Regions from separate parts of the Homo sapiens genome. Here regions 1, 3, 4, 5 and 6 are each linked to region 2. The links come from fine-mapping of genetic effects on gene expression. A gene starts in region 2. Each other region holds a variant in brackets. All regions are shown on one strand. Distances are from middle to middle. Region 1 overlaps ESYT2 (extended synaptotagmin 2). Region 2 holds the start of ESYT2 (extended synaptotagmin 2). Region 3 overlaps ESYT2 (extended synaptotagmin 2). Region 4 overlaps NCAPG2 (non-SMC condensin II complex subunit G2). Region 5 overlaps ESYT2 (extended synaptotagmin 2). Region 6 overlaps ESYT2 (extended synaptotagmin 2).

Region 1 (5,073 bases), 82 kb after region 2:
ACCTTCTAATTAATTTCCACTAACACAGATATTTAACTGCATCTTCTTGTGGGGCTAAGTTATAAATAAACCTCATGTCACACGTATCTGCTGCTTTACTATTTTCTCCTATCAACTATCTGTGCTAGTGTGTACTTCTTACCGTTTTTCCTAGTCCTGAATTTTTTCTTCATATTTATATCTGCTTAATTTAATATGATTCTAAACTGATGATTATTCTTCCAGTCAAAATTATTTAGCAGCTGGTAAGCAAGATTTGATATGTGAAAGCTTAAAAATGCTCAAACAGAAGACGCTAAGTTGAGAACATAAAACCGTGTATCTGACACTCTGTACTATTTTTATTCCCGCCAGAGAAATATTCTGAATTTTACGTTCTTTTACATTTGTCTTTTAATGATTTTTGGTTTTCATTAATTGCACTTTATTCATTTTCGTTATCCTTGTAAATAAAAGAACTTTCGAAAAGTGTGATTAACATTAAGAATTTTTAGAAGATTCAGTTTTCCAAAGTAGTTGGCTTTAAAAATACCAGACTCTAACCTTTAAAATTTGTGTGCAAATGAAAGTTTTGTAGTTATGGTTTGGGGTGTGTGTAGCTTATGTTTTCCCATTAAATTGTTCCCAGATATTCCCTTAAATATCAGAGATAAATAAAAATGACTACTAATATAAGCCAGTAATTTCATTTTTAGTTAAGACCCATTTAAAATGTGTTTATTTATTTTGTCTGTTTTCTGTTTGTTTTGGGTAGTCAGGGAAGAAAATAAGCAGCAACCCAAATCCTGTTGTCCAGATGTCAGTTGGGCACAAGGCCCAGGAGAGCAAGGTAAGGTGCTCGCCCTGGACTCAGCCTTGGTGCCTGTCGTGCGGGCGCTGTCCGTGTTGCCGTCTCACCTGGGGATGCCGGGTTGCAAATACATTCAGTTGTGTGATAGCGTGGGCATCGAGACCAGGGCTTTTCAGATCTATTTTTTCTTAGATCAGTCATTTGATATAGATAACCAGCTACTTGAAATACCAAGAAATATACTGTTCATTTTTTAAAATGACTTCAGTGGCTAGGTGTGGTGGCTCCTACCTGTAATCCCCACAATTTGGGAGGCCGAGGCAGGGAGATCCCTTGAGGTCAGGAGTTCGAGACCAGCCTGGCCAATACGGTGAAACCTCATCTCTACTAAAAATACAAAACTTAGTCGGGCATGGTGCCGGGTGCGGTGCCGGGTGCCTGTAATCCCAGCTACTCGGGAGGCTGAGGCAGGAGAATCGCTTGAACCCGGGAGGCAGAGGTTGCAGTGAGCCGAGATTGCACTACTGCACTTCAGCCTGGGTGACAGAGCAAGACTCTGTCTCAAAAAACAAAACAAAAATAACATTAGAAAGTAATAGATGAATATGTTTTTGCTTGATTTTATGAGTAGACACATGGGAACAATTCCTAAGTTTGTCTTGAGCACTCTATAAATAGTTTAAAAGAAAACCAACAGTGCTTAAAATTCAACCAATACAGTTAGAATTACGACTTGAAAAGAGGGTATGGCTATTACATATTGCTGTAATATGTTCTACTTTCCTTACAGGAGAAAAAAAATTAGCTGGGCATGGTGGCACGTGCCTGTAATCCCAGCTACTTGGGAGGCTGCAGCAGGGGAATTGCTTGAACCCGGAAGGTGGAGGTTGCAGTGAGCTGAGATTGCGCCACTGCACTCCAGCCTGGCGACAGAGCAAGACTCTGTCCCCCCTACCAAAAAAAAATAAAAAATAAAAAAAAAAAGAAAGAAATTGCCCGAAGTTACAGGTCATCACTCACTGAATTGTGAACAGTTTAAGAGACGTGCCCAAGTGCTCACCCTCCTCAGTTCGGAGGAGCTATTACGTTGGTGCAAAAGTCATTACAGAACCGAGGCCAGGCCACGCACACGAAGCCTTTATCTGTGGGCGCACAGGTTGGGGCCTCATGACAAACTCTAAAGGCTTTAGACCGTCTCGTTATCTTTTCAACACATCCACCATCAATACATAATAGTGCATACCTGCAAATACATGTCTTGGAATTTAATTAAGGTCAACCTAAGCTTCTAGTTTTTTGTTTTATTTATTTTCTTTTTATTTTTCATTCTAAGCTTCTAAACACATAAAATGAGTAGCCCTTTTCCACAGAAAATATCAGAGCTAATAATTTGGATATTTCTTCTAGATTCGATACAAAACCAATGAACCTGTGTGGGAGGAAAACTTCACTTTCTTCATTCACAATCCCAAGCGCCAGGACCTTGAAGTTGAGGTATTTTATTTGCATTTTTTAACCAATTTATTGACAAATAATTGACTTTTTAAAGTATACAATTTGCTGAGTTGTGACCCGTGTATACACCTGGGGATCCATCGCCAGAATCAGGACAATTGGTAGATCTCTCTGTAACCCGGGCCTCCCCTAGCCCCAGGCAAACACAGACCTGCCTTTGGTCACTGTAGATTACTGTTCACATTTTCCAGGATTTTATACAAATAGAATTATGCGGTATGTCCTCTAGTTGTCTATATTCTCTGGTGATAATTATTCTGAGGTTTACCTGTGTTGTTGCAGATACCCACAGTTTGTCTTTTTTTATTGTTGAGTAGTAGTTATGGATATACCACAATTTGCTCATCCATTTACCTGTGAGTAAGACATTGATAAAAGATTGGGTTCTTTCCGGTTTAGACCTATTACATATAAATCTGCTGTGAATATCACATACAAGACTGTGTGTACATATGCCTTCATTCTGTTGGGTAAAATGCCCAGGAGCAGGTTGCCAGGTTCATGTTTAGCTTCTTAATAAACTGCCAAATTGTTTTCCAAAGAGATTGTGCCGTGTCACATTCCCACCGAAGTGCATGTGAGTCGAGCGGGCCCCACATCTCGCCAGTGCTGTGGTGTTAGTGGGTAGATAGGAGTATTACCGGGTGGTTTCAGCGTCATTACTAATGACGTTGAGCACCTTTTTATGCTTTTTTACGGTCTTTGTATCTTCTATGGTGAAATGTCTATTCAGTTTTTTTGCCTGTCTTTTTTATTTGGTTATTTGTCTTCTTAATACTGAGTTTGTAAGACGTTTGGGGTTTTTTTTTTAATGTTTCATTCTTT[C/T]TGAGATGAAGTCTCACTCTGTCATGGAGGCTGGAGTGCAGTGGTGCGATCTCAGTCACTGCAGCCTCCACCTCCTGGGTTCAAGTGATTCTCTTGCCTCAGCCTCCTGAGAGCTGGGATTACAGGTGCGCGCCACCACACCTGGCTGATTTCTTGTATTTTTAGTGGAGACGGGGTTTCACCATGTTGGCCAGGCTTGGCCTTGAACTCCTGACCTCAGCTGATCCGCCCACTGTGGCCTCCCAACGTGCTGGGATTACAGGCGTGAGCCAACGCACCCCGCCTCTTTGTTTTTGAGAACAGAGTTTCACTCTGTTACCCAGGCTGGAGTGCAGTGGTGTAATCACAGATCACTGCAGCCTCCAACTCCTGGGTTCAAGTGATTCTCTTGCCTCAGCCTCCGGAGTAGCTGGGACTACAGGCAGACACCACCATGCCTGGCTAATTTTTTTATTTTTTGTAGAGAATTATTTTATTTTTTGTAGGGTCTCACAGTGTTGCCCAGACTGGTCGCAGACTCCTGGGCTCGAGCAGCGATGTTCCCACTTCTGCTTCCCCAAGTGCTGGGATTGCAGTTGTGAGCCACGGTGCCCAGCCTCTTTTTCTTAATATGGCTGTGTAGTTGTTCAGCATTTGTGCAGTTGTTCAGTCTTTGTTGAAAAGATTATTATTTGCCCTAATTTATTAGCTTAGCAACTTTCCAGAAATTCAGTTGCCCATATGTATAGGTCTGTTTCTGGAATTCCTTCTGTTCCATTGTTCTATATGTCTGTCTTTATGCCAGTATCACACTGTCTTTATTATTGGTGCTTTATTAATCTTTTTTTTTTTTTTTCTTGAGGCAGGGTCTCACTTTGTCACTCAGGCTGGAGTGCAGTGGTGCAGTCATGGCTCACTGCAGCCTTGACCTCTTAGGCTCAAGCAATCCTCCCGCCTCAGCCTCCCAAGTGGCTGGGACTAGAGGTGCACACCACCACACCCAGCTAATTTTTGTGTTTTGGGTATGTGTGTATGTGTGCCTCAGCCTCCCAAGTGGCTGGGACTACATGTGCATGCCACCATACCCAGCTAATTTTTGTGTGTTGGAGGGGCGTGTGTGTGTGTGTGTGTGTGTGTGTCTATTTATGTATGTAAAGATGCGGTTTCACCACATTGCCCAGGCTGGTCTCGAACTCCTGAGCTCAAGCCATCTATCCACCTTGGCCTCTCAAAGTGCTGGGATTACAGACGTGAGCCATCATGCCTGGCCTGTCTTCTCTCTTCTTCTTCCTAATAAGTCTTACAAGATGTTTATTGATTTTATTTTCTTAACCAATTTTTTGTTTAATTGTCATTATTGCTTTTCTTTTACTATTTCATTGATTTCTACTATGATCATTATTATTTCAGTCCCACTTACTTTGGGTCTTTGCTTCTCTTTTTCTAGTTTCTTAAAGAAGAAGCTTGAGACATTTCTGTTTTTATAATGTAGGCATTTACTCCAATAAATTTCACTTTAAATTCTGTAGCTACATCTCACAAATTTTGACTTGTCGTTGATGTCTCCTTTTGATTATTATTATTTCCTTAATTTCCCTTTCAGTTTTTTCCTTTGACCTGTGTATGGGTTATTTTGGTCTGTTATTTAGTTTCCATATGTTTGGGGATTTTTTTTTAATCTTTCTATTATTGATTCCAATTTCATTCCATAGTGGTCAGAGTACATACTTTGTATGACATGAGCCCTTTTATGTTTGAGACCGGCTTTATGGCCCAGAGCACTGCCTGTCCTGGGACACACTCCACGTGCACCTGTAGGCTGTGTGCCTTTCTGGTGTTGGCGAGTGTCTCATGAATGTCAGTAGGTCAGGGTGGTTGGTGGCATTGCCATTGCTCAGGCCCTCTGGGGCCTTACTAGTTCTCAGACTACTTATATCAGGTATGAAGAGCATGGCGTTTAAATC
Region 2 (5,073 bases):
TCACTGTCCCCAGTATATTTAATTTGCTGGTATAACCTCCAAATTGAAGAGATGCAGAGCACGTGCTCCCACCCTCCATAACGAGACGTATTTAGAGGTGTGGGGGAGGACCCAAAAGCAGGAAGAGTTGAACCTAAGCACAAGATAGCACTTTCCTCTGAAACCAGGAAGGCTGGAACTTCGCAGCTGTGCACCGGAGCACTCGGAATGACACTCCAGAGAAAGCAGCACTTCTCCTTGTCTACAAGAAGGAAAGGATGGAGGGGTCATGAAAGGTCACAGGAGATTGAGGGGTATAATATTAGCAAAAATCTAAGAGCCGAGCTGGACCTGCAGTCAGACCAGACACCTGTAAGACTGAGCTGTGGCAGAGCCTTAGGATCTGCTTTCTGCAGGCAATTAACCACAGGGAGGGGCTGGAAACCCGGGGCTCACACAGAGGGAAGCTGAGGACACTTGGGCTGACTGGTATGCAACATGGAAACTTCTCTTCAATCTAGTTTACATCCTTGGGTCAACCACTGGATGGCACATGGCACAGGATTTTTTTTTTTTTCTTGAGACGTAGTCTTGCTCTGTCGCCCAGGCTGGAGTGCAGTGGTGCGATCTCGACTCACTGCAACCTCCGCCTCCCGGGTTCAAGTAATTCTCCTGCCTCAGCCTCCCGAGTAGCTGGGACTCCAGGTGCGCGCCGCCATGCGCGGCTAATTTTTTGTTATTTTTAGTAGAGACGGGGTTTCACCATGTTGGCCAGGATGGTCTTGATCTCCTGACCTCGTGATCTGCCCTCCTCGGCCTCCCAAAGTGCTGGGATTACAGAATTTTTTACGTGGCTTATGTTTATGCAAGTCTTTGTAGGATGTGATCCTACAATTTTCCAGTAGAGGAAAGCTGCAAAAGAAAGGCTCAGGCTCCTTTCTGTGTCAACAAAGCAATTACTTGCTTTTGTGTTGAGGCTTAGTTTTGAATGAAAGGTGGTGTTAGGAGCATTAACCGGTTGCATATTTACAATCTACATAATATAATTTGTTGCTGCAGCAAACCAGGGACTGTGAAGAGTAAGAAAAGGGAAACCACTTCCATTCCTTGCTTGGGGTTTACTGCCCTTGCCTGGAGTTGAGAGTTTAGACTCTGCAATGTTTTACATATGTGATATAATCTCCACATACATATGCACACAAAATTATGAAGACGCAGGAACGAGGGGAGACAGATTCCTATGTAAAGGTGACCCTGCTTCTTCTGGGCATTTGTTTATTCATTCAGTACCTGCCAGTGCCCTACTCTGTTACAAATTCAGTAAAAATTTCCTTGGAATTCACTGAATATGCTCAAAAACAGTCAAGTAGGATGTTCTTTGCTACTGTTTGGCTTGGAGTTTCCTTGAAAGAAACTACAGAACAAATATAATTAACTCGATTGAATTCACTGGAAAGTAAAGTGATCAATAGTTGTGTTTTTGAGTTAACTGAAAAGTGACCTCAGGAATCACAGGAAAGGCCCAAAATTAGTCGTTTGAAACAGCTATTCATAGTTGGCCACAATATTAACACCTTCGGCGAAGCTGCGTGGTGCCCGGGGTGGAGTTCCCGAGTGTCAACAGCGTCCCTTGGGCGCTTGCGGTGGTCTTTGCCCGGCACTACCAGACCCCTCAGGGAGGACTTTTGGGATTAAAGGCATCTTAAAAGCCAACTGAACTGTGTGAGAGTTGTCAAGGTCACAACGGAGTCGTTTGTGTTTAAAACCCTGACAAGCAGGGTGGGAAGGGCCCCAGAGGCAGCGTTCTCACGCCGGAATGCCCGATAACAAGACCGTCCCGAGAGACTCCGCAAAAGCCACAACCTTGCACACTGGCTAGGCAACCTCACACCGAAAAATACCGGAGGACTCCCGCCAGCGGCGCCCGTCCGACCTCCGGCGGGCGGCGCCCTCTCACCCGTCCTCCTGGCCGCAAAATGACCGCAAACAGGGACGCCGCCCTCTCATCCCACCGCCACCCCGGCTGCGCTCAGCGGCCGCGCACCCCCACGTTTGCCAGCAGCTCCCAGAGGCGGTCAGCCTTTGGGTTTGACGACGGCAACTTCCCGGGCCTCGGCGAGCGCAGCCACGCACCCGGAAGCCGCCTCGGGGCGCGACGCCGAGCCAAAACCGCCCGCGGGCTCCGAGGCCACAGGCAAGTGGGGAGGGTGCCCCGTGGGGCTCGAGGGGACGCAGGCACGCCCAGCCCACGCACCGAGCACTCTCCTTTCCCGTCCCCGGCTCCCGCCAGCCGAGACACAACGCTCGCGTGATGACGTCGTGCGCCTGCCCGGCCCACTCCAGTAGTCTCCGACCCGGCCCACGGCCCGCCCCGCGCGATGACGTCAGTATCCACCCCGCCCGCTCCCGGTGACGTGCCAGCCCCAGGCCCACGCCGCTCCCGCCCCGCGTGATGACGCCACCGTCCCGGGCGGAGGCGGGCGTGCGGCGGAGCCGCGTCCCCTCAGAGGGGCGCTGGCGCGGGGCTGAGCCGCCCGGGATCAGCGCGAGCACCCAGCCCGCCTCGGCCGGGAGGGCAGCGCGGCACTGCGGGGCGATGAGCGGCGCCCGGGGCGAGGGCCCGGAGGCGGGCGCCGGCGGGGCTGGGGGCCGCGCGGCGCCTGAGAACCCCGGGGGCGTGCTGAGCGTGGAGCTGCCCGGGCTGCTGGCGCAGCTGGCGCGGAGCTTCGCGCTGCTGCTGCCCGTGTACGCGCTGGGCTACCTGGGGCTCAGCTTCAGCTGGGTTCTCCTCGCGCTCGCGCTGCTCGCCTGGTGTCGCCGCAGCCGCGGCCTCAAGGCCCTGCGCCTGTGCCGCGCGCTGGCGCTGCTGGAAGACGAGGAGCGCGTCGTGCGCCTGGGGGTGCGCGCCTGCGACCTGCCCGCCTGGGTGAGTGCAGACCCCTGCCCGTCCCGACCCCTGACCACCAGTCCCGATCTCCCCTCGTCCAGGCAGGCACTCCCCTCCCCGCGACCTGCCGCCTGGGTGAGTGCAGACCCCAGCCCTGCCCCGGCTCCCGCCTTCGTAGTCCCCCACCCACCCCGGTCCAGGCAGGCGCTTCCCTTCCGCCTGGGCGAGTGCAGACCCCAGCCCCGGCCCCCGGGCCGGTTCCTGCGACCTGCCAACCTAGGTGAGTGCAGACCCCGCCCCGCCCCCCGGCCCCGACTCCCAGCCTGCTGGCGACCTGCCCGCTAGGGCGAGTGCAGACCCCAGCCCCGCCCCGGCCTCCGGCCCACTCCCTGCGAACCTGTCCGCCTGGGGCCGCCGCCCGCTGCTCGCCGCTCCCGCCCTAGTCCTGAGTGCTCCGTGCCCTCCCTCCGTCCAAGTCGGGCGTCCCCTTCTCCGCTTCCCCGCCCGCCCAGGCTCCGGGTCCGGGGCGCGTCTGCCCTCGTGAAGCCTCCCCTCGCCGTCCCGCGCGGCTTTCTCGGAGACCCCTCTTCACAAAGCCCGCTTCCCTCCCCCGGCCTGCAGACCCCGAGCGCCAGCGGCAGGTACCGGGCTTGGCGCCCCCTCTTCGGCCGCGGCCCTGCCCGGAGCGCGCGCTTCCTCCTGGTGCCGCCCGCGGGGTCTCCTTAGGGGCCTGAGCGGCCGGTTCTGCTCTCAGAGCGCCCAGCGCGATTCTCGTGCGCATTCCCAAAGCCCTGCCGGCCTGGAAATGCTCCGGGTGGCTTCAGCTTTTCCTTCTCTCTGTTTTTTAAAAAACGTAATGACAGCTGGTGGGGGAGAAGTTAACTTTTTCTTCTACCGGGAGAAGACGCACTCGTGTCTTGGTTGTTTCTGACGCATTTCAAGGGCAGTAAGTGTCTCTCGAAAGATGTGGAGATATTAGATAATTGAAAGATTGTTTCAGTTTTTTTGCAAGTATAATTGTGAGACTGAGCATTTTTATATGGGATCGACCTGAATCCAGTGTGAATGTGTGTGTGTGTGGCAGGAAGTTTTGGAAGAGTTGCAGCAATAACAAGAGTCATGGTATTATTTTATTTTTAACCCGGCAGTTCTCTACCTCGTATATTTATGGACTATAGACACGAAGAGTTGGCTTCAAATCTTTTTCTTGTCATTCCCTAATTCTTTCTTAGCCATGACTTGGCTTCACAGTTTCACACTGCAAGAAAGGATTTTAATGATTCTTCCATTAGGCTTAATATAAACTTTGGGGTGAAGGTGACCAGCAGTGGGTTTCGGAAGGGTCATTTTCTCTTAGAGGAGAAAAGTCCCTGTTTCCAGTCATGAGACACCTGAGAAGTAAGGCATGACACAGATGGCAAACAAGAATTAGAAAGGAGGCGTGCCCAAGACAAGAAGAAGGTAGTAGATGCTACTTTGTGACGTCATATTGCAACTGGAGTAAGAATATAATGTAAGGAGCTTGGGAATGTACAGTTCTGCCGATGCGTGGTGAGCATGAGGGAGTCATATTTGGAGAACCAAGGTAACTGGCATGGTGCAGCTTTTAGCTAGCGGCGGGAAAAACCGAGGGGTGTGTAGAAAAAGGAAGTTAAGAGGAACCGAGGTGGGGAAAACTAAGAACAGAGGAGGTGCACTTTGGAAATGGAAAAGGACTTTAAAGTGACGTTTTGTGTCTATATTACACTAAGATGCATAATACTAAAAAGTAGCTAAAAACAGAGTCCATTAGCATCCATTGCTATGTTATATTGATAACATAGCAATGTTATCAGTGCTGAAATTTGCAGGAAGTGATGATGCTGACTTTCATAGATACTTGGTTATTGGCTAATATCAAATTTGCTTGTTAAAAATCTTTGTGAAACACAGATTTTCTTTTTCTTTTCTTTTTTTTTTTTTTTTGAGACAGAGCCTCTCCCTGTTGCCCAGGCTGGAGTGCAATGGCGTGATCTCGGCTCACTACAACCTCCGCCTCCAGGGTTCAAAAGATTCTCCTGCCTCAGCCTCCCGAGTAGCTGGGATTACAGGCGTGCACCATCACGCCCAGCTAATCTTTGTATTTTTAGTAGAAACAGGGTTTCACCATGTTGGCCAGGCTGGTCTCAAACTCCTGACCTTGTGTTCCGCCTGCCTTGGCCTCCCCA
Region 3 (5,073 bases), 100 kb after region 2:
CTCCTTTCTGTTCAACTAATTTCACGTGACAGTGCATGTATTTATTCAATAAAACCTTTATGTTAGCTCAGTCGTGATTTGTTTTTCTCTGTCTTTTGAAGGGAGGTGTTCAGTGTGCAGTCAGATAATTTGAAAGGAGACGTCGTGCACTGTTTCATTTGCTGTCTGCACTCGCGTTTTCCCAGCAGCTACGTCAGAGCAGCTGACATCCTTCCTGTTGTTCCCAGCTCAGTTTGACTCTCCTCTGCCCAGCACATTACACTCCACATGTCAAAAACAGCTCTTCTAAAGGATAATCATACGTAGAAAAAATAAACTTTAAATGTGTTTTTAACTAGGGCTCTGAGAAGTGCAGCGGGGACTGCCGAGACACCTGAACATTGGAACACTGAGGGTGATACTGGAGTATCCCTTCCTGTTGCGTTCATTACTGGTGGTCTGGATCGACTTGAGTGGAGCCCTTGCGCTTTTCCTCGTAGCCGCTCGGCATTTCACACCAGGCACTTCCTTTCTCCTTGACTGTGGGCCTTTGACACCGGGCACTTCCTTTCTCCTTGACTGTGGGCCATCCTTCTTGGCCTCTGTAGCGCCTTCCTCTGTATTTTCCTTGCACATTTTTGGCCATTTTCCAACACTGTCTTCACCTTCAACCAGACTCAATAATTGGCATAATGTGGGTTTTGGTTCTGATCACTTTTTATTTTTATGTGGTGTTCTTAATACCATCAATACCCTGGTTTCCAGATGTATGTCACTGATACAGATGTTGTCTGAGCTCAGGACCAGTTCATCCCACTGCATCCCCGTCCTCTGTGTCACATGGACACCTCAAGGCACACCCTTTGTCCATCTGTCTGTCCATCATCCGTCTTGGTGCTGGAGCTGAGACCTGGACAGCACCAGCCACCTCCCACTGCCTCAGCCCATGTGCAGACACCAAGTCCTTGAGCTCTAACTGGAGAATGTAGCCACCTCAACTCTGTCCCCTCAGTCCAAGCCACCGTCCCTCTCCATTTCTCAATCTTTCTCCCCTGCCTGCTCCATTTTCCATACAACAGGAGAATCTTTCAGACACAGATCACTCCCACTCAGCTGTGTTCCACTGTTCAAGAGCAAGAGCATTTCCTGACTTCTGCAGCTGAGTGTTTCTTCTTCCTCTGGGACCCTCACCCACTGTACCTCAATCAATGCCTCTCAGTTCCACAGACGGCCCCTACACATTCCCACTCAACACCCCCAGGCATGCTCCTCCCCGCAAGCACCTCCACACCTGCTCGGAACTCCCCAACATCTCCACACTGCTCCCCCGAGCACCTCCACACTTGCTCCTCCCCCCCAGCACCTCCACACTTGCTCCTCCCCCCCCAGCACCTCCACACTTGCTCCTCCCCCCCAGCACCTCCACACTTGCCCCTCTCCCCAGCACCTCCATACCTGCTCCAACGCCCCCACCTCCACACTTGCTCCTCCCCGCCAGCACATCCTCACTTGCCCCTCTTCCACAGCACCTCCACACCTGCTCCAACCCTCCCGCCTCCACGCTTGCTCCTCCCCCACTATCTCCACACCTGCTCCTCCCCCCAGCACCTCCACGCTTGCTCCTCCCCCACTATCTCCACACCTGCTCCTCCCCCCAGCACCTCCACATTTGCTCCAGTCCCAACCTCCACCTTGCTCCTCCCCCCAGCACCTCCACGCTTGCGCCAAGCCCCCCACCTCCACGCTTGCACATCCACACTTGCTTCTCCCAACACCTCCACGCTTGCTCTTCCCCCACTATCTCCACACCTGCTCCTCCCCCCAGCACCTCCACATTTGCTCCTCCCCCCCCACCTCCACGCTTGCTCTTCCCCCGCAGCACATCCACATTTGCTCCAATCCCCCCACCTCCACACTTGCTCCAACCTCCCCACCTCCATGCTTGCTCCTCCCCCCAGCACCTCCACGTCTGCCCCTCCCCTCCAGCACATCCACACCTGCTCCTGCCCCACCCACCTCCACACTTGCTCCTCTCCTCTCCTCTCCCCAGCACCTCCACGCGGGCTCTTACCATGACTGGCCCAGCTCACATCCACTCCCCGTAACTTCTCAGTTGAAAGCTGATCTCGGTGTCCTGTGAGTTTTCTTAGCATCATGTGTGTGTATGTGT[T/GT]TTTTTTTTTTTTTTTTTTTGAGACAGGTTCTTACTCTGTTGCCCAGGCTGGAGTGCAGTAGGGGGATCAAGGGATCCCCCCCACCTCAGCCTCCCAAAGTATTGGGATTACAGGCCTACGCCACCATCCCGGCCTGTGTTACTTTGATTCACCAAATTTAACGTAATTACAATTTAGTTTTATTTAAAACTTTCCTACATGGACTGTAAACTTTCAAGGGCAGAGATTATGTGAGTTTTATTTAAAACTCACTGGTCGCCTATCACTGTTCCAGACACATGGTAAACCAATTATCTGTTGAATAAATGTATAAAGTTTGGCAGACGGCTCACACCTGTAATCCCAGCACTTTGGGAGGCCAAAGCAGGTGGTTCACTTGAGCTCAGGAGTTCAAGAGCAGCCTGGGCAACATGGCAAAACACTGTCTCTACCAAAAATACAAAAATTAGCCAGGCGTGGTGGCGCATGCCTATGGTCCCAGCCACTCGGGAGGCTGAGCAGAAGAAGGATCACTGGAGCCAGGACGTCGAGGATGCAGTGAGCCATGATTGCGTTGCCGCACTCCAGGCTGGGTGAGACAGCAAGACCCTGTCTCAAGAAATAAATACGTTTGGCAGACCAAAATATAATTCATCTCGTCTAACAAGTTTCCATTCAAAAAAAGATATATACCTACTAACGGTTGTTAGTGACGACTAAGGAGAAGATACTGCTAAGCGTGATGGATACTATTGAGAGAAAAAGCCAAGGGCCTCCTCATCTGAGAAACAGTTGAGACATGAAAGTTGGAAACACCCAGGAAGTCTGCCTTTAACTATTTACTGTTATTCTCAACTTCCTGGGCAATATAATACAAAGAAAAAAGATTATCTGGAAATTTTTACAAAGAGATAGTCATTTTCAGATACAAGATTGCCTACCTGGAAATCCCAATAATAATACTCTGCAAAGAAGGCCAGGCACGGTGGCTCACACCTGTAAGCCCAACGCTTCGGGAGGCCAGGCATGGCAGCTCACACCTGTAAGCCCAACGCTTTGGGTGGCCGAAGCAGGAGGATCAGTGGAGCCCAGGAGTTTGAAACCAGCCTGGGCAACAGAGTGAGACCTCATCTCTATAAAAATAAAAAAACTAGCTGGGCATGGTGGGTGCACACTTACAGTTCTAGCTACTTGGGAGGCTGAGGTGGGAGGATCTCTTGAGCCCAGGAGGTTAGGAGGCTGCAGTGAGCTATGATTGTGCCACTGCACTTCAGTGTGGGCGACAGAGTAAGACCCTGTCTCAAAAAAAATATCTGGGCCGGGCGTGGTGGCTCACACCTGTAATCCCAACACTTTGGGAGGCCGAGGTGGGCAGATCACGAGGTCAGGAGATTGAGACCATCCTGGCTAACGTGGTGAAACCCCGTCTCTACTAAAAATAAAAAAAATCGGCCAGGTGTGGGGGCACACGCCTGTAGTCCCAGCTACTCGGGAGGGCGAGACAGGAGAATCACTTGAACCCAGGAGGCGGAGCTTGCAGTGAGCCAAGATCGCGCCACTGCACTCCAGCTTGGGCGACAGAGCGAGACTCGGTCTCAAAAATAAATAAATAAATAAAAATCTGGAGGCCGGGCGTGGTGGCTCACACCTGTAATCCTAGTACTTTGGGAGGCCAAGGCAGGTGGATCACTTAAGGTCAGCAGTTTGAAACCACCTTGGCCATCATGGTGAAACCCCATCTCCACTAAAAATACAAAAAATTAGCTGGGCATAGTGGTGCGCACCTGTAATCCCAGCTACTCAGAAGGCTGAGGCAGGAGAATCACTTGAACTGGGGGAGGCAGAGACTGCAGTGAGACGAGATCATGCCACTGCACTCCAGCCTGGGCGACAGAGTGAGACTCCATCACCAAAAAAAAAAAAAAAATCTGGAAAATATTTGGATGTAGAAATGTCTGTGTCGTATATGGTAATGCCAATAGCTATTGGAAAATATGGAAAAAGTCATACAGCAGCAGCCTTAGAAGTGCAACAGCACAGATGACCAGCAGCCTTGCTGCCTCTGGAGGGGAAAGAAGGAGCTTATTGCTCTCCAAAAGTTCCATCCCCAGGGAATTGTCACTATTTCAACTCTCAGGCTCCCAGGAAAACTCCATCTCCAGGTTTGTTGGTCCAGAAGAATCGGTGGCGGTTGTTTAACATTGCAGCTGCCTGAGGCAGTGGTAGCAGTTGGGACAAACAAGAGGCCAACCAAACACTTTGAAAGGAGAACCTAGGGGATGAGACTGTCCACAGAGGGCTTTGTAAAACTCTGGCATTGCTGGGGTGCTAGACACATGCACATGCCGGGCTGTGCACATCCCCAGGAAAGACCTGCAAGAGTTCTCATTTCTGGCTGTGAGGTGCCTGCTGGAAGACTGAAGGCACCCAGCACATGCACAGGGCCCCTTGGCAGCAGGTGGGAGACCAACTGGTCTGAAGTATTCAAAGAAGTCCTTTCCAATCCTTAGCTGGCACGTGAGCTAACCCAGCAGAGGCTTCAGAGGCAGCATGTGACAACACAGCTTCTAGAGAGTCCAAGTATGTTACTAAACACAAAGAAACAACAGTGACAACCATCATCAACAACAAAGCCAGGAGTGGAAGAGGGATCTTGTCTACAGAGTTGCCACACTATATTATCTTTATTTTTTTTTATTTTTTTTTTAGATGAGTCTTGCACTGTTGCCAGGCTGGAGTGCAGTGGTGCCATCTTGGCTCACCACAACCTCCACCTCCTGGGTTCAAGCAATTCTTCTACCTCAGCCTCCCGAGTAGCTGGGACTACAGGCGCCCACCACCATGCCCGGCTAATTTTTGTATTTTTAGTAGAGACGGGGTTTCACCATGTTGGCCAGGCTGGAGTATATTATCTTAAATGTCCAGATTCAATGAAAAAAGGATG
Region 4 (5,073 bases), 190 kb after region 2:
AACTAATTCTCTTAATTTTGGTTTGTCAGAGAGTCTTTTACTTCTACTTTATTTCTTTGCAGGGATAATGTTATGTAGTTTATAATTCTAGTTGATGAATTTTTTTCTCTCTGTACTTTATTTAATTTATTATTATTATTTTTTGAGACAGAGTCTTGCTCTGTTGCCTAGGGTGGAACGCAGTGGTGTGATCTCAGTTCACTGCAACCTCTGCCTCCTAAGTTCAAACGATTCTTGTACCTCAGCCTGCTGAGTAGCTGGTATACAGGCACATCGCCGCCACACCCAGCTCATTTTTGTATTAGTGGAGACAGGGCTTCACCATGTTGCCCAGGCTGGTCTCGAATTCTTGATCTCAAGTGATCTACTCGCCTCAGCTTCTCAAATTGCTGGGATTACTCCCCGTGCCCGGCCACTCTCTGTACTTTAAACATTTCGCTATACTCTCTTCTTGGCTCGTGTAGTATCTGAGAAATAGGATATAATTCTTTTTTGCTCCTCAGTAGATAAGGTGTATTTTTCCCTATCTGGTTTCTTTCAATACTTTTTCTTTGTTTGATTTTTCTGTAGGTTGAATATGATATGCCTAGGTGTAGTTTTCTTTTCTTTTTTTTTTTTTTTTTTGGCATTTATTCTATTCAGTATTCTATGAGCTTCCTGGATAAATTCTCAGTTATTATTGTCTGAATATTTCTTCTGTTCCTTTCTCTCTTCTGAAATTCTTATTATACATGTTAACACCTTTTACAGTTGTCTCACAGGTCTTGGATATTTCATTCTATCAAAACAGCTGCATTTTTGAATTCTGTTTGCTAATATTTTATTTGAGAATGTTTGCATTAGGTTTGAAATAAGATTAAATGGTTGTTGGTTGTTTTGTTTTGTAGTGTTTTGTTTTTGTTTTTTCAGTAGGACCTCTACCAGTTTTGCTCTCAGCATTAGTTGGTAACTTCTCCCTTTTCAGTGTTGTGGAGCAGTTTAAATCACATCTGATGCTGTGGAACAACATACCCCCAGAAATCTGGGATGACTTTTCCCTGTTTCTTCTATGTTAGTAGTTGGGTCTGATTTCCTATTACTGCCTGAATAAATTTTGGTAATTTACAATTTCTTGCATTGGTCTAGATTTTTAAATTTATTAACAAAATGGCTTGTGGTTTTTGTTTATTGATTTTAATAGAATAGAATTTACTCATTGAGATATACATATGGAAAAGAATGTAAATAATATGTGTACCACTGAATTAATTGTTATAAAATGCACTCACAAGCCAGGTGCGGTGGCTTACAGCTGTAATCCCAGCACTTTGGGAGGCCAAGGCAGGTGAATTGCTTGAGTCTAGGAGTTCGCAACCAGCCTGGGCAATGTGGCAAAACCCTGTCTCTACAAAAAATATAGAAATTAGTTGGATATTGTGGCACTCACCTGTGGTCCCAGCTACCCAAGAGGCTGAGGTGGGAGGATCACTTGAGCCCAGGAGGTTGATGCTGCAGTGAGCCGAGATCACGTCACTGCATTCCAGCCTGGGTGACAGAGTGAGACCCTGTCTTAAAAAAAAAAAAATTCAGTCACCACCTAAATCGAGGAATACACCTCCTGAACATGGTCCCTCTCTCCCTGTTTGAAGGTATCAGCCCACCCCAATACCTCAGTATAATTTTGGGCATTGTCCGGATGAAGAGCAAAGTGTGTGTGGTTTTATACTTGATATGAGGTTTATGTTTACTGTGGCTTTTAACACCATTTCTTTTTTGTCTTTTTTGATTGTACGTCTGAGACTGGCTCTGTGGCTCACACACAGCATTTGTGAGTGCTTGTGCATAGGAGTGTGTGTTTTAGAGAGGTGGAGTGCCACCTGATCAGTTCACGTTCGTTAATTGTGTTACCTCAACTTTTCTATGTTTTTACTGATTTTTTGTTACTTATTCTACAGAGACTTGTGTTAAATTTCTCATTATGCTTGTGAATTTGTCCAAGTATCATATTTAGGACTGCTTTTGCATTATATATTTTATGGCCCTGTTATTAGGTGCATATAAGTTTAGAACTGCTGTATGTTCTTGATTAATTGACCCTTTTATTTTAATAAAGGGTCTCTCTTTACTCCACTTTGTCAGGTACTGAGATAACAATGTTGGCTGGGCATGGTGGCTCGCGTCTGTAATCCCAACACTATGGGAGGCTAAGGTGGGTGGATTGCTTGAGCTCAGGGGTTCAAGACCAGTTTGAGCAACACAGCGAGACCTCATCTCTACAAAAAATACAAATATTAGACAGGTGTGGTAGCATGTGCCTATAGTCCCAGCTACATGGACAGCTGAGGTGGGAGGATTGCTTGAGGTGGAGGTTGCAGTGGGTTGAGATTGCGCCACCGCACTCCAGTCTTGGCAACAGAGCAAGACTTGTCTCAAAAGCAAACAAACAAAAAACAATGTTTTTCTGTGTGTTTGTCAGGTTCCAGGAGAAGACCAAAACCACGCAGTGATTCGGATAGGGAAAGCTCAGTGTCAGGGATTTTTTTGTTTGTTTTTGAGACAAGAGTCTCCCTCTGTTATGCAGGCTGTAGTGCAGTGGTGCGATCTTGGCTCACTGCAACCTTTGCCTCCCAGGTTCAAGTAATTCTTGTGCATCAGCCTCCCGAGTAGCTGGGATTACAGGCATGC[G/A]CCACCATGCCCGGCTAATTTTTGTATTTTTAGTAGAGACGGAGTTTCACCATGTTGGCCAGGCTGGTCTTGAACTCCTGGCCTCAAGTGATCCGCCCGCCTCGGCCTCCCAAAGTGCTGGGATTACAGGGGTGAGCCACCGTGCCCAGCCAAGTGTCAGGGATTTTTATAGGGAGTTGGCACGATGGGTTATTGGCTAGTGAGAGTTAAAGAGAACTCTAGAGAATACAGGACTAGCAGATGAAGAGAACACCTCCAACCCTAGGTGAGCGCCGCCAAGGAAGGAGCCCCCACCCGGACAGGGAGACCTGGCTTCCTACGTGGAAGAAATTGTTAGCGGCCTTCTGTGGGACCTGAGGACGTCCACTCACCTGGGTGGGTGGTGGGCCGGGGGGATGTGGAGCCATCGCAGGGGAGGTGCTGGGGAGCTGCTGGAGCCGGAGCTGGAAAGCCTACTCTCTTGAGTCCCACAGGCTCCTGTGTGTGGCTCGGATGGGGTGGGGGCTTGTGGGGTAGTTGTCTGGTGTGCTGCTTGTGCTGTCAGAGTCTGCTGGAGAAAGGGGGGCCTTACGGAAACCTGGAGAAAGTCCCCTCCTTCCCCAGTGACCTTCCAGCACCCCACGGTGATGGGACGTTGAACTGGGCACTAAAGCAGGTGGGTGGGTTTGGGCTCCTAGCGACTGAGTGAATGAAATGCATTCAATTATGTACTTTATTCTAAAAATGATTGAGTGTCCACTATGCTAGTTTTAATCAGGTTAGACTTTGCAACTTTATATTTTAAGAAGAAACCCTCTCAGCACTTTGGGAGGCCAAGGCAGGTGGATCACGAGGTCAGGAGATCGAGACCATCCTGGCTAACACGGTGAAACCCCGTCTCTACTAAAAATATAAAAAATTAGCCGGGCATGGTGGCGGGCGCCTGTAGTCCCAGCTGCTCGGGAGGCTGAGGCAGGAGAATGGCATGAACCCGGGAGGCGGAACTTGCAGTGAGCCAAGATCACACCACTGCATTCCAGCCTGGGTGACAGAGCAGGGCTCCGTCTCAAAAAAAAAAGAAGAAGAAGAAGAGGAAACCCAATAGACTATTGGCCTTAGGAGCTTGTTTTTAGGGCAGTGGTCTGATTTGGGGATGACAGAGGAGCACTTGTCCATTTCAGAAAATAAGTGGCAATGATGTAAATGGTCCATCAGGCACAAATATTAAACAAGATGACCAGAATTACCAACTGTAAGAATGTTAAATTGTTTTCACAGGATGTAGTAACAACCTCAAAAGTCTAAGCATTTTTCTTTATTAGAAATAATGTTGGCCGGGCACAGTGGCTTATGCCTGTAATCCCAGCACTTTGGGAGGCTGAGGCAGGCAGATCACCTGAGGTCGGGAGTTCAAGTCCAGCCTGACCAACATGGAGAAACCCCGTCTCTACTAAAAGTACAAAAATTAGCTGGGTATGGTGGCACATGCCTGTAATCTCAGCTACTTGGGAGGCTGAGGCAGGAGAATCACTTGAACCCGGAAGGCAGAGGTTGCGGTGAGCCCAGATCGAGCCATTGCACTCCAGCCTGGGCATTAAGAGTGAAACTCCATCTCAAAAAAAAAAAAAAAAGAAAAAAAGAAATAATGTTGCCAAGGAAGGCTTATTTGGATATAGAATAGTGTATACTATTCTGAAGATGAAAGGGAAGAGGAACATTGGTTTCTCACTAGGAATGCCTTCCATTTCCACTTATACTTAGTTTCAGGCTAACTACTTGAATTATGTTAGTTACATTGAGAGAAGAAAAGACCTGAGAAATTCAGAACTTACAATGTGGAAAAGGACATGAACAGAACACTGGGGATGGAGCGTTTTGTTTCTCCATTATTCACCTGCATGCCATCCCCTCTACTAAGATGATACACAGATGAAAAAAAGAGCTCCTCCCTTTAAGAAGGAAACATCCTAGAAAATAAATAGGTCAGGACTGTGAAATATTGGCTTCTTACTTAAATATGCAAGAAGCAAACTATAGAAAAACCAGTGTCTAAAAAAATCAATCTGACAAATTGATGAAACAAGAAAAATCAATCTAACGGAAGATAAACAATTAAGATTTAAGACTGTATTTTAAAATATTATTGATTTAACGTTGGACTAGAGACATTAAAGCAAGTAAACATCTTTAAGAATCTGGGAACCCCTTGCTCCAATTAATATTTTAGGCAGTGGAGCTTGATTTAAAAGTGCACGTTTTCTTAACAACTAATCTAGTTTTCAGGGCTAGTATTCTGTTGACTGGTCTGTCTTTTGGGTGCTAAATAAAAATCGGCATCTCATTGCATTTTAATTGCCTCATCCGATATAGCATATTGTAAACTGGACATTTTCTGAGGAGAAACAACATGCATTTGCCCATGCACTGGTG
Region 5 (5,073 bases), 32 kb after region 2:
AGGTAGGAGAATCACTTGAACCCGGGAGGCGGAGGTTGCAGTGAGCCGAGATCGCGCCACTGCACTCCAGCCTGGTGACAGTGAGACTCTGTCTCAAAAAAAAAAAAAAATTAAGAGGCCACATAGTCTTAAAAATATCATACGCATATGCAAATGTGTATAGAAACATGTCTAATGTAAGTTATACATGCTTATAAACGCATAGAAAAGAGGTTTGCAAGAATATGTTGGCCAGGCTGGTCTTGAACTGCTGGCTTTAAGTAATCCTCAGCCTCCCAAAGTGTTGGGGTTACAGGCATGAGCCACCATGCCTGGCCCTAAATAGGTTTCTTTTCTCCTGTACAAACCCTTCTCCAGTATCCAGGCCCTACCTGGAGAATTGTAAGAGGGATCCCTATCTGGGTGAAGGTGGGAGATGATGGTATGGAGAGGAGCCATGTAAGGAAAGGTGTCTCTTAGCTGGTTTGGGCCAAAAGAGAAAAGCAAAAGGGAAGAGTGAATTTTATTTTAGTTTATATTTTGTTACTTTATTTTATGGAGTCTCATTATGTTGTCCAGACTAGGGTGCAGCACTAATCACAGGCATGGTTGTAGCACATTGCAGACAAGCTCCTGGGCTCAAGGGATCCTCCTACCTCAGCCTCCTGAGTACCTGGGACTTGCAGGTTTGGGCCACCACGGCTGGCCTGGGAAGGGTAGGGGCTCTGAGCCTAGATTGCCAGGACATGATGATAATACTACTGACAAATTAGAAACATGTTTTTTTAAAAAGGTAGAGGTCAGTTTTGTATAATTTATGATGTTTCAGATTCCAGTGAATTTCCTCTGGACAGTGGGGTGCAGAGAAGACTCTGATGGCATTTTCCACACACAACTTTTTTGCTCATTGTGTTCTCAGAACGTAAAGAGCTGGGGTGCCATGCATTTCACTTTCCCTCCTTGGAGACCAGTTTCCCAAGCTTTAGAGCAGAGTGTTTTAAAGAAGCATCTTGTAAACATAGGACGTATGATGAGAATATGAAATTGCCTGCTTGACATTTTATTTACAGTTGTTGGGAGTTAATAAGTCATATGTGTGTATTTTCCTCCTAGGTTCATTTTCCAGACACTGAAAGAGCAGAATGGCTAAATAAGGTAAGATTAGAGTATACCAACTACCATCCATCAGTGGAATTGGAGGATGAGATACCATCTTTCCATATTTGGGGATTTGCATGTTGGTAATATTTGAGCTCGTTTGGACTTTAGTGGGTTGGCTTCTGGTCCCCAAAGACCTCAGTCACAACAAATGCATTTCTTTTCTTTCCAGAGAGTGAGAACTGTCTCTTTGACTTGAGAAAAGTATAGGCATGTGCATATTTGTGTCTCTGGCCATGTGTCTTCTTTTCTGAACAGCCAGGGCTCAAGTCTATTTTATAACAATCATAAGTTTTAAAAAACATGACAAAGAAAGAAATAACTTACAAGAAATTCAATAATCAATAACAGTCTTTTTTTTTTTTTTTTTTTTTTTTTTTTGAGACGGAGCTTCACTCTTGTTGCCCAGGCTGGAGTGCAATGGCATGATCTCGGTTCACCACAACCTCCACCTCTTGGGTTCAAGTGATTCTCCTGCCTCAGCCTCCCGAGTAGCTGGGATTACAGGCACGCACCACCACGCCTGGCTAATTTTGTATTTTTAGTAGAGATGGAGTTTCTCCATGTTGGTCAGGCTGGTCTCAAACTCCCGACCTCAGATGATCCACCCGCTTCAGCCTCCCAAATGCTGGGATTACAATTGAAGAACTATATAAATATTAATGTTGTTTTCAGCACCAAGTTGAAACCACAGGACTTCTAGAAATCTTTAAATGTGCTGACATATTTAACCAGAATAACTAGTTCCTGCAACATATTGGTTAATCAGTAGTTGGTTTTTCTAATAACTTTTTAGAATTTAGATCA[T/C]GTTGATTTTGCATAACAACAAGATCCTCCCGCCCTTTATTTTCAAAACCAGGTTTGGTCTGTTGCGAGGGTTTCTCACGAGCACTCGTGTGTGTCATGCATTATATAGCATTTTGTTTAAACTGAGTTCTTTTTCCTTTCCAGACTGTAAAACACATGTGGCCTTTCATTTGCCAATTTATAGAGAAGTTGTTTCGAGAAACTATAGAACCAGCCGTGCGGGGAGCAAACACCCACCTTAGCACCTTTAGTTTCACGAAGGTCGACGTGGGCCAGCAGGTCAGTGTTCTCTTAAGTATCCTCACGTGCACACAGTCAGATTGCTGTGAAAACACAAAACAACACATTTTCTTTTTTTTTTTTTCTTGAGACGGAGTCTCGCTCTGTTGCCCAGGCTGGAGTGCAGTGGCACTATCTTGGCTCACTGCAAACTCTGCCTCCCAGGTTCACACTATTCTCCTGCCTCAGCCTCCCGAGTAGCTGGGACTACAGGCGCCCTCCACCACGCCCGGCTAATTTTTTGTATTTTTAGTAGAGACGGGGTTTCACCATGTTACCAGGATGGTCTCGATCTCCTGACCTCATGATCTGCCTGCTTCAGCCTCCCAAAGTGCTGGGACTACAGGTGTGAGCCACCGCGCCTGGCCGAAAAACACATTTTCTTTTAAATTTTTTTTTTTCAGACGGGGCCTCACTATGTTGCCCTCCCTGGCCTCAGACTCCTAGGCTCAAGTGATCTTCCTGCCTCAGCCTCCCAGCTAGCTGGGTATATGTTTTTTAAACAACTTCAGCTGGAAGCAGTGGCTCATGCTTGTGACCCCAGCACTTTGGGAGGCCTGAGCTTAAGAGTTTGAGACCAGCCTGGGCAACAAAGTGGGACTCCGTCTCTACAAAAAAATTTAAAAGTTAGCTGGGTGTGGTGGTGCACGTATATGGTCAGAACTACATAGAAGGCTGAGGCAGGAGGATCACTTGAGCCCCAGGAGGTGGAGAGTGCAGTGAGCCATGATCACACTACGGCATTCCAGCCTGAGTGACAGAGCGAGACCCTATTTCAAAAAACAGACAGCTTCAAATTATGTTCTGAAGAAAATTGTTCACCAAGGTCTACCGGGTGCGTTTCTCACTCAGGCTCTGCCTCCAGCCGTGGTGCCTTTTCCCGTCTCTGTCGGGAGGCTGTCCTGCTGCCCTCTCGCCTGCAGTGCCCTTTCCCGTCTGTCGGGAGGCTGTCCTGCTGCCCTCTCGCCTGTGGTGCCCCTTCCTGTCTCTGTCACTCAGGCTCTGCCTCCAGCCGTGGTGCCTTTTCCCGTCTCTGTCGGGAGGCCTTCCGGCTGCCCACTCGCCTGCAGTGCCCTTTCCTGTCTGTTGGGAGGCTGTCTTGTTGCCCTCTCGCCTGCAGTGCCCCTTCCTGTCTGTCACTCAGGCTCTGCCTCCCGCCGCGGTGCCTTTTCCCGTCTCTCCTGGGAGACCGTCCTGCTTCCCTCTCGCCCGCACTGCCCCTTCCCATCTGCCGGGAGGCCATCCTGCTGCCTTCTTGTCCGCGGTGCCGTCTTGGCCATGTCAGCCTCCGTCTCATGGCTTCTCTTTAACACTGACTTTTTCTCCACCACGTGTCTTTCTGCTCCACGTTCTTCTGTCAGCACGCCCTTTTCGGAAGCACTAGTTTTAAGTAGTCTTTCCTGTGAGCGAGTTTGATATGTGAATTCATGCTAAATGTGCAGTAATTGACAAGTTTAAGGTGTTTACCCCTCTCGGGATGTTAAAAAACAAAACTACTAATGACTCTAATGCTGGTATGTTAGGTACAACATTCATTACGTAAGTGGAAGAAAAGATGGATTTTGTTAATGGAGTCACATTATATAAAAAGGAAAGCTGATACTTCCTAATACCACCTTTCATAAAAGCCTCAAGAGTACATTTAGTTGATCATGGGAAGTTTTTCTTTTTCTATTTTTAAATCAGTGTTTAAGTAGCAACAGTCCAAGGTAACATTGTTTTATATGCCTAAAGACTCAGAACGTGATAGTTCTTGTAAACACACACACAGTCTGCACACGTTGTTGCACACACAGCAGAGTCAGCAAACAGACATCCCCGTGCAGTGCGGTTCAGGGTTGTGATAGATGTGGCTGTGGGAGGGTCTGGCATGGTCACTGTGTATTTGCCACCTGTTAGTGGGCACCAGTGTACACCCCATGATCTCCAGGCTGCTGGCTACCTTTCTCCATCAGAGCTGACTTTCTGTGTGCAGAGAATGCTCTGTCTCAGAAGCAGTTACTCCAGACCCCGTGCCTCCTGTGCAGCCTTACGTGTGACACCTGCCTGTATGTGCTGCTGCTTTTCCTGTGACATGCCTGAGGTGTGGCCATCCTGTGCAAGAGTCCATGTCTCTACACAGGACGCCCGTAGGACGAGCCCATGTCTCTACACGGGACGCCTGTAGGACACTTTCAGTGTTGACTTTACCTTCAACACCTAAAATGGTAACCACAGATGGGAAAAAACACAATTACAAGTTAAAGTGCCATGTGAGTGCAGGTTAAAGTCCCAGTGACAAGTTAAATGCTGTAAAGCAGGGGCTGCATGCTCTGTCTGTACATGGCCGCAGGGGCTGCATGCTCTGTCTGTACGTGGCCGCAGGGGCTGCATTGTCCTGCTGTCTCTCCCTCCCTTCTTCTACAGCCCTTTAGCCAGGTGAAAACCATACTAGCTCCAGGGCTGTAGAGTCAGGCCAAAGGCACATTTAGCCTGTTATGCCCTAAGTTACAGCATGTTCGTGTTTGTGGATATTTAAAATTCCATCTCAGCTGGGTTTATTTTAGGAATAATTTAATTATGTTTGAGTTCCATCACACACACTTTAAGTTTGATACCAGCTGAATAAGGAAATCCTTGGAGAATAGCAAGAGTATTAAGAGGAGTGCTGATTCAATAAAGATAGCTTTGGCATTTTCATCTACTGTACCAATGTCTTACAAGTGTCAAACCCAGGCTTTCTGATGAAGGGATGGATAGAATGGCATGTGGAGTCCTGTGCAGGGTCCTTGGCCAGACTGTGTGCTGACCAAGACTCCCGGCAGCTGGGCAATGTTGCCTTCTGGTGTTTGTCCTTCATTAGGTAATGCC
Region 6 (5,070 bases), 92 kb after region 2:
TGTAGCTTGGTATCTTACTGCCGCAAGGAATCTGTTCCTTCAGTCTTAACGATCTCTGCTGCAGCATTAATGCCAGTCGGTTGTTGCATCTGAACTGCGAAGGGGGGGGTATAAATAACCTCCCGTCCTGTTGTGGTCAGGAACTCAGTGTTTAAGTTTCTCTGGGGTCCCCTGGGTCCACTCACATGGGAGTGGGGTGGGGGCTTAGGATTTTACTTTTAGTTTTCAGGACCCTAACTAAAAAACTGTCAGTTGGCTGGACGCGATGGCTCACGCCTGTAATCCCAGCACTTTGGGAGGCCGAGGCAGGTGGATCACCTGAGGTCAGGAATTTGAGACCAGCCTGGCCAACATGGTGAAACCCCATCTCTACTAAAAATACAAAAAATTAGCTGGGCGTGGTGGCGGGCGCCTGTAATCCCAGCTACTCAGGAGGCTGAGGCAGGAGAATCGCTTGAACCCAGGAGGCGGAGGTTACAGTGAGCCAAGATTGCGCCATTGCACTCCAGCCTAGGCAACAAGAGTGAAACTCCGTCTCAAAAAACAAAAACAAAAGAAATAATGTCAGTTTTGAATAATTAATTTATATTGAACCCTCAAGTAAAATATTCATCTGTTTGACTTGTACCCAGAAGTTTCAAATTATGTTTAAGTTCATGGGTAATTTGACTTCTTTTTGTCTAAATGAATAGAAATTATTTTATCGTGTACAGTGGACCAATGAATCACAACGTTCTCCAGTCTCAGGCAAGCTGGTGACTTTCTGCTCTTTTCCCACAGCGGGACGACCCTGGGACAGTCTCCACTGGGGCAGATCCAGCTGACCATCCGGCACAGCTCGCAGAGAAACAAGCTTATCGTGGTCGTGCATGCCTGCAGGTGGGGGCTGGGGTCCCACGCGCCCGCTGCTGTGCTGCTGAGTGTGGATGCTGGATAGGATGATGTAGACACCGCCTTTAGGATTTCCAAACATCCATTTATGTTTCATTTAGAAAGGACAAAGCAATTAAACCTCTAGAGACGGTGCTCGTAAAGGGTGTCACCACTGCGTATGTCACATGACAACGTTTTGGTCACCGAAGTACAACGGTCCCCTAAGATCATACTGTATTTTTACTGTACCTTTTATGTGTTTAAATACACAAATATGGCTTGGCATGGTGGCTCACGCCTGTAATCCCAGCACTTTGGGAGGCTGAGGTGGGCAGATCACCTGAGGTCTGGAGTTCGAGACCAGCCTGACCAAAATGGAGAAACCCTGTCTCTACTAAAAATACAAACTAGCCACGTGTGGTGGTGCATGCCTGTAATCCCAGCTACTAGGGAGGCTGATGCAGGAGAATCACTTGAACCCAGGAGGCAGAGGTTGCTGTGAGCCAAGATCGTGCCATTGCACTCCAGCCTGGGCAACAAGAGCGAAACTTTGTCTCAAAAAGAAAAAAAAATACACAAATATGTCACAATTGCCTACAGTATTCAGCACAGTAGCATACTGTACAAATGTGTAGCCTAGAGCAGGAAGAGTGTGTGTGTGTGTGTGTGTGTGTGTGTGTGTGTCTGTGTGTGTGTGTGTATTTTTTTTTTTTTTTGGAGACAGAGTTTTACTTTGTCCCCCAGGCTGGAGTGCAGTGGCACAATCTCATCTTACTGCAACTTCCGCTTCTTGGGTTCAAGCAATTCTCCTGCCTCAGCCACCCGAGTAGGTGGGATTACAGGCGTGCACTACCTCGTCCGACTAACTTGTATTTTTAGTAGACACGGGGTTTCACCATGTTGGCCAGGCCTCCTGAGTAGCTGGGACTATAGGTGGAAGCCACCAGGCCTGGCTAATTTTTAATTTTTTTATGGAGACGCTGGTCTCTAATTCCTGGCCTCCCAAAGCACTGGGATTATAGACTTGAGCCACCATGACTGGCCTAATCAGGAAGAATTTATTTTAACTTGTTTGTTATATTAATAAGTATAAAGTCAGGTGACTGTTGCATTAATTGCATTTGTTAACAATGATACTGTGGGCTTACGAACTATTTTCCTTTTATGCAATTTTCTCTGTCCTATTAGTGGTTTAAAATATGATATAAAAATTTGGTGCTTATAAATAGCTGTTGGAAACATAGGAAAATAAAATTAGCACCATTTAGAAAGATGATAAAAATGTAGAGTTCAGTACATCACTCTTGAGAAGTTCATATATTCTTGCCACTTAGATAATGATCGTGGGGGATACTGTTGTAGAGGAGTCTAGCAAAACAATCCCTCCTAGACTTTGTGGTCAGTCAGCAAGCGAAGAATGTGGGGGCCTGTGCAGCTGGGCACCTGACCGCGTTTGCTGCAAAGGAGCAGCCCCC[T/G]TCTGGAGGGGTAGGCACTGTGGGGTGGGGGCCTGGCTTTCTTGGCTGTGAGAGAGAAAATGGCAGAAGCATTATGGAAAGACAACCGTCACTCTGTTACAAGCAGAGACCAAGGACTTGGAACGTCCTCCAAACTCTGGGCTTGAGAAATGAAGGCCGAAGTCGCTGCTGAGAAAGCCACTAAGAAAGGAGTTTGGGAGATGCCACCAGGCAGCCGTCGGGGGAGGCAAAAGCGCCTCACGCATTCTGTTCCTTGTTGCTTCTCGGTTTGTAGATAAACATGAAATCAAAGCTTGATAAAGCATATCTGAATGTGCTGCTCATTCTCTTTTTCTCGGTCCTAATACCTCGTCTTATCTGGTTTGTGTTGTAAGAAACCTCATTGCCTTCTCTGAAGACGGCTCTGACCCCTATGTCCGCATGTATTTATTACCAGACAAGAGGCGGTCAGGAAGGAGGAAAACACACGTGTCAAAGAAAACATTAAATCCAGTGTTTGATCAAAGGTACGGTATTTTATCCAGCTGAGGATAGACTGCCCGGTTGAAGTGACGGATTAAGAAGGCCCTAAATGGTGCCTTTGAGTGGCCAAAGCACATAAATCAGCTGTTGAGAAGTTCAATCAGAAACCAACTTTTAGCAAACATACTTCTCAAAACAAATAAGCATTTTGACCTTCATGTAGAAGCTCTAAATACAGTAAATTCAAGTTACAACCCTGTGGACATGTAGACTAGTGATTAAATAAAGATCAGGTTACTGATGGCCCTGAAGAACTCATTTTTGGGGGTTATATCTGTTGACACTTAACTATGTTATCAATTAAAACTGAGAATTTAAGGATACATATATTTTTAATTTTATTTTTAAATAACAGTAAGCCCCAAACATCTTACCGTATGACATATTGGAAAAACAACTGTATTTCCAAAAATAAAAAACATAATGAAAAGAATGGTATTATTGTTCAGCATTTTTGCTCATCTCTTTAGTGGTCTGGCTCAAGAGGGGCTGGAGCCTGCTTCTGTGGTCAGGGTGATTTGGTGACCTCCTAGGAGGGTCTCAGAGACACCCCCAGGGGTCATTGGCCCCCACTTTTAAAGAGCTGCTAATCTGTACCATTTTGGTATCTTAGGTGATTGTCCCCTAGTGCTTCAAAACCCACCCTTGTTTTGGGAAATGATAATAATACAGTTGTATGGTGTCGCTATCTGCTAATTCAGTTTACGTTTCATCTTTAAACATCCTCCTCATTCATTGTACTTTCATACAAGTAGCTTTATGTAAAACACCCATCAGAAACTGGCAGGCGTGCATCAGCCCGATGAGGTTGTGCAGGGTGCTCCTACCCATCCGAGGCATTTAAGCGTCTGGAGACTCCACTTGCCCCCCAGCACGGTGGCCTGGGGCAGGCACCCGCAGCCCGGAGGAGAGACGCCCTGCAGGCACTTTAGTGCAGCGTCTGGCTGAGCATCGGGAGTGCTTTGGAGGCCTTCTCCCTCCTGCGAAGCTGCAAGCACATACTTTTTTTTATTGGAGATGGTGGGAATAGGGCCTGAAGACTAAACCAGACTGAGTGGAAAGCCTGAGTGAGTGGGCTGCTCTGGAATTGCTGTTTTGTCAACATTATCCCACATTTTAATCCCCTGGAAGAGTCAGACATGTTGAGAGACGCTCCTCACCCACCCGTGAGTGAGCCAGGGACCTTGGGACCCAGACATCTATGGGATGCCAGAGCCTTCTTTTATGTGTGGGAAATGAAAAAAATGTTGGTTTTTGAGTCTTCCTGAAATGCCAGATTAAAACATTAGGTAGAAGAACTCAGTTTTATAATAAAAAACAAACATGACATTTGGAATGATCTCATGAGCAGAAATGCCATTTTTAGTTATAAGAAAATACAGCAGAATGATGGATAAAGTAAGGCTCTCGTTTCCTATTTCAGCTTTGATTTCAGTGTTTCGTTACCAGAAGTGCAGAGGAGAACGCTCGACGTTGCCGTGAAGAACAGTGGCGGCTTCCTGTCCAAAGACAAAGGGCTCCTTGGCAAAGTAAGTGCCAAACGAATCCTCAACCAGTTCCTGCAGTTTGTAAAATTGAACATTTACCTGCAGTGCAGTGTTTAGACCATGTCTGTGTAAGTGGAAGGGGCGAACTTACGAGGTCGATGCTTGTTTATAAATCATGGGCTATAAAGACAGTCAAAACATCTGTGCTTTCTGAAGATATTTTAAGTTAAGTCTTCACATTTTTGTTCAAGTATCACATTGAAGGAAAATAATCTCTTACAATTCCATCTCCTCAACTGATGGCTCTGCTCTTTTTCTAAAATTCTTTGGCTTTATTTATGTGAATTTCTTCTACTCTTTGTCCGTATTTCACATTTCACTTTGGCATGTGAGTGTATGTTATTTAGGAATGAGAGTAGGTTCAGTTGGGGAGGAAGAGATTTGAGTCACGGGCATCATTTCGTCAGCTGTGCTGCCATGGAGGGCACATGGGCCAACCCTTCTGTGAGTCATCTCCGCTGATATTCCGTCATAGCTGAATTTTAAGACTGCTGGTTGCATGAAGGATTTCTTAGATGTATTCAGCGATGTAGCTTACAGGTGCTCAGGGGGGTAGAAAAGATTGAAAAAGTAAGAGCCTTCAGAAAAGGGAGAGTCCATATTCCTAGATGAAGACAGAAGATTAGAGAGATGAGAAGAAGTGGTAAAAGATC

What was found. PIP is the estimated chance that this variant, and not a neighbour inherited with it, causes the effect.
Region 1: its variant is the best candidate, but not a certain one, in a credible set for the expression of ESYT2 in macrophages (Nedelec 2016, PIP 0.73).
Region 3: its variant is the best candidate, but not a certain one, in a credible set for the expression of ESYT2 in whole blood (INTERVAL, PIP 0.86).
Region 4: its variant is the best candidate, but not a certain one, in a credible set for the expression of ESYT2 in whole blood (TOPMed, PIP 0.62).
Region 5: its variant is the best candidate, but not a certain one, in a credible set for the expression of ESYT2 in whole blood (INTERVAL, PIP 0.86).
Region 6: its variant is the best candidate, but not a certain one, in a credible set for the expression of ESYT2 in whole blood (INTERVAL, PIP 0.58).

What each region holds. Positions count from the first base shown.
Region 1 is chr7:158,745,405-158,750,477 of GRCh38, reverse strand. ESYT2 (extended synaptotagmin 2) reads left to right here. Exons shown (of 23, transcript NM_001367773.1): 15 at 755-829; 16 at 2,198-2,284. Among named protein-coding and RNA genes, the nearest start is that of NCAPG2, 43 kb to the right of the region's middle. The variant C/T (reference allele first, on the strand shown) is at 3,131.
Region 2 is chr7:158,826,921-158,831,993 of GRCh38, reverse strand. ESYT2 (extended synaptotagmin 2) reads left to right here and starts at 2,485. Exons shown (of 23, transcript NM_001367773.1): 1 at 2,485-2,905. The coding sequence starts at 2,576. RefSeq lists enhancers at 1,522-1,631, 3,642-3,711 and silencers at 1,942-2,671, 2,762-2,861, 2,912-3,101, 3,192-3,241, 3,322-3,521.
Region 3 is chr7:158,725,994-158,731,066 of GRCh38, reverse strand. It overlaps ESYT2 (extended synaptotagmin 2), which reads left to right. Exons shown (of 23, transcript NM_001367773.1): 23 at 1-70. Among named protein-coding and RNA genes, the nearest start is that of NCAPG2, 24 kb to the right of the region's middle. The variant T/GT (reference allele first, on the strand shown) is at 2,150.
Region 4 is chr7:158,635,604-158,640,676 of GRCh38, reverse strand. All of the region lies in intron 27 of NCAPG2 (non-SMC condensin II complex subunit G2), which reads left to right. Among named protein-coding and RNA genes, the nearest start is that of MIR5707, 47 kb to the right of the region's middle. The variant G/A (reference allele first, on the strand shown) is at 2,665.
Region 5 is chr7:158,795,092-158,800,164 of GRCh38, reverse strand. It overlaps ESYT2 (extended synaptotagmin 2), which reads left to right. Exons shown (of 23, transcript NM_001367773.1): 2 at 1,093-1,134; 3 at 2,089-2,223. Among named protein-coding and RNA genes, the nearest start is that of ESYT2, 32 kb to the left of the region's middle. RefSeq lists an enhancer at 2,786-3,285. The variant T/C (reference allele first, on the strand shown) is at 1,945.
Region 6 is chr7:158,734,832-158,739,901 of GRCh38, reverse strand. It overlaps ESYT2 (extended synaptotagmin 2), which reads left to right. Exons shown (of 23, transcript NM_001367773.1): 19 at 781-879; 20 at 2,723-2,854; 21 at 4,294-4,399. Among named protein-coding and RNA genes, the nearest start is that of NCAPG2, 33 kb to the right of the region's middle. RefSeq lists an enhancer at 4,856-5,070. The variant T/G (reference allele first, on the strand shown) is at 2,349.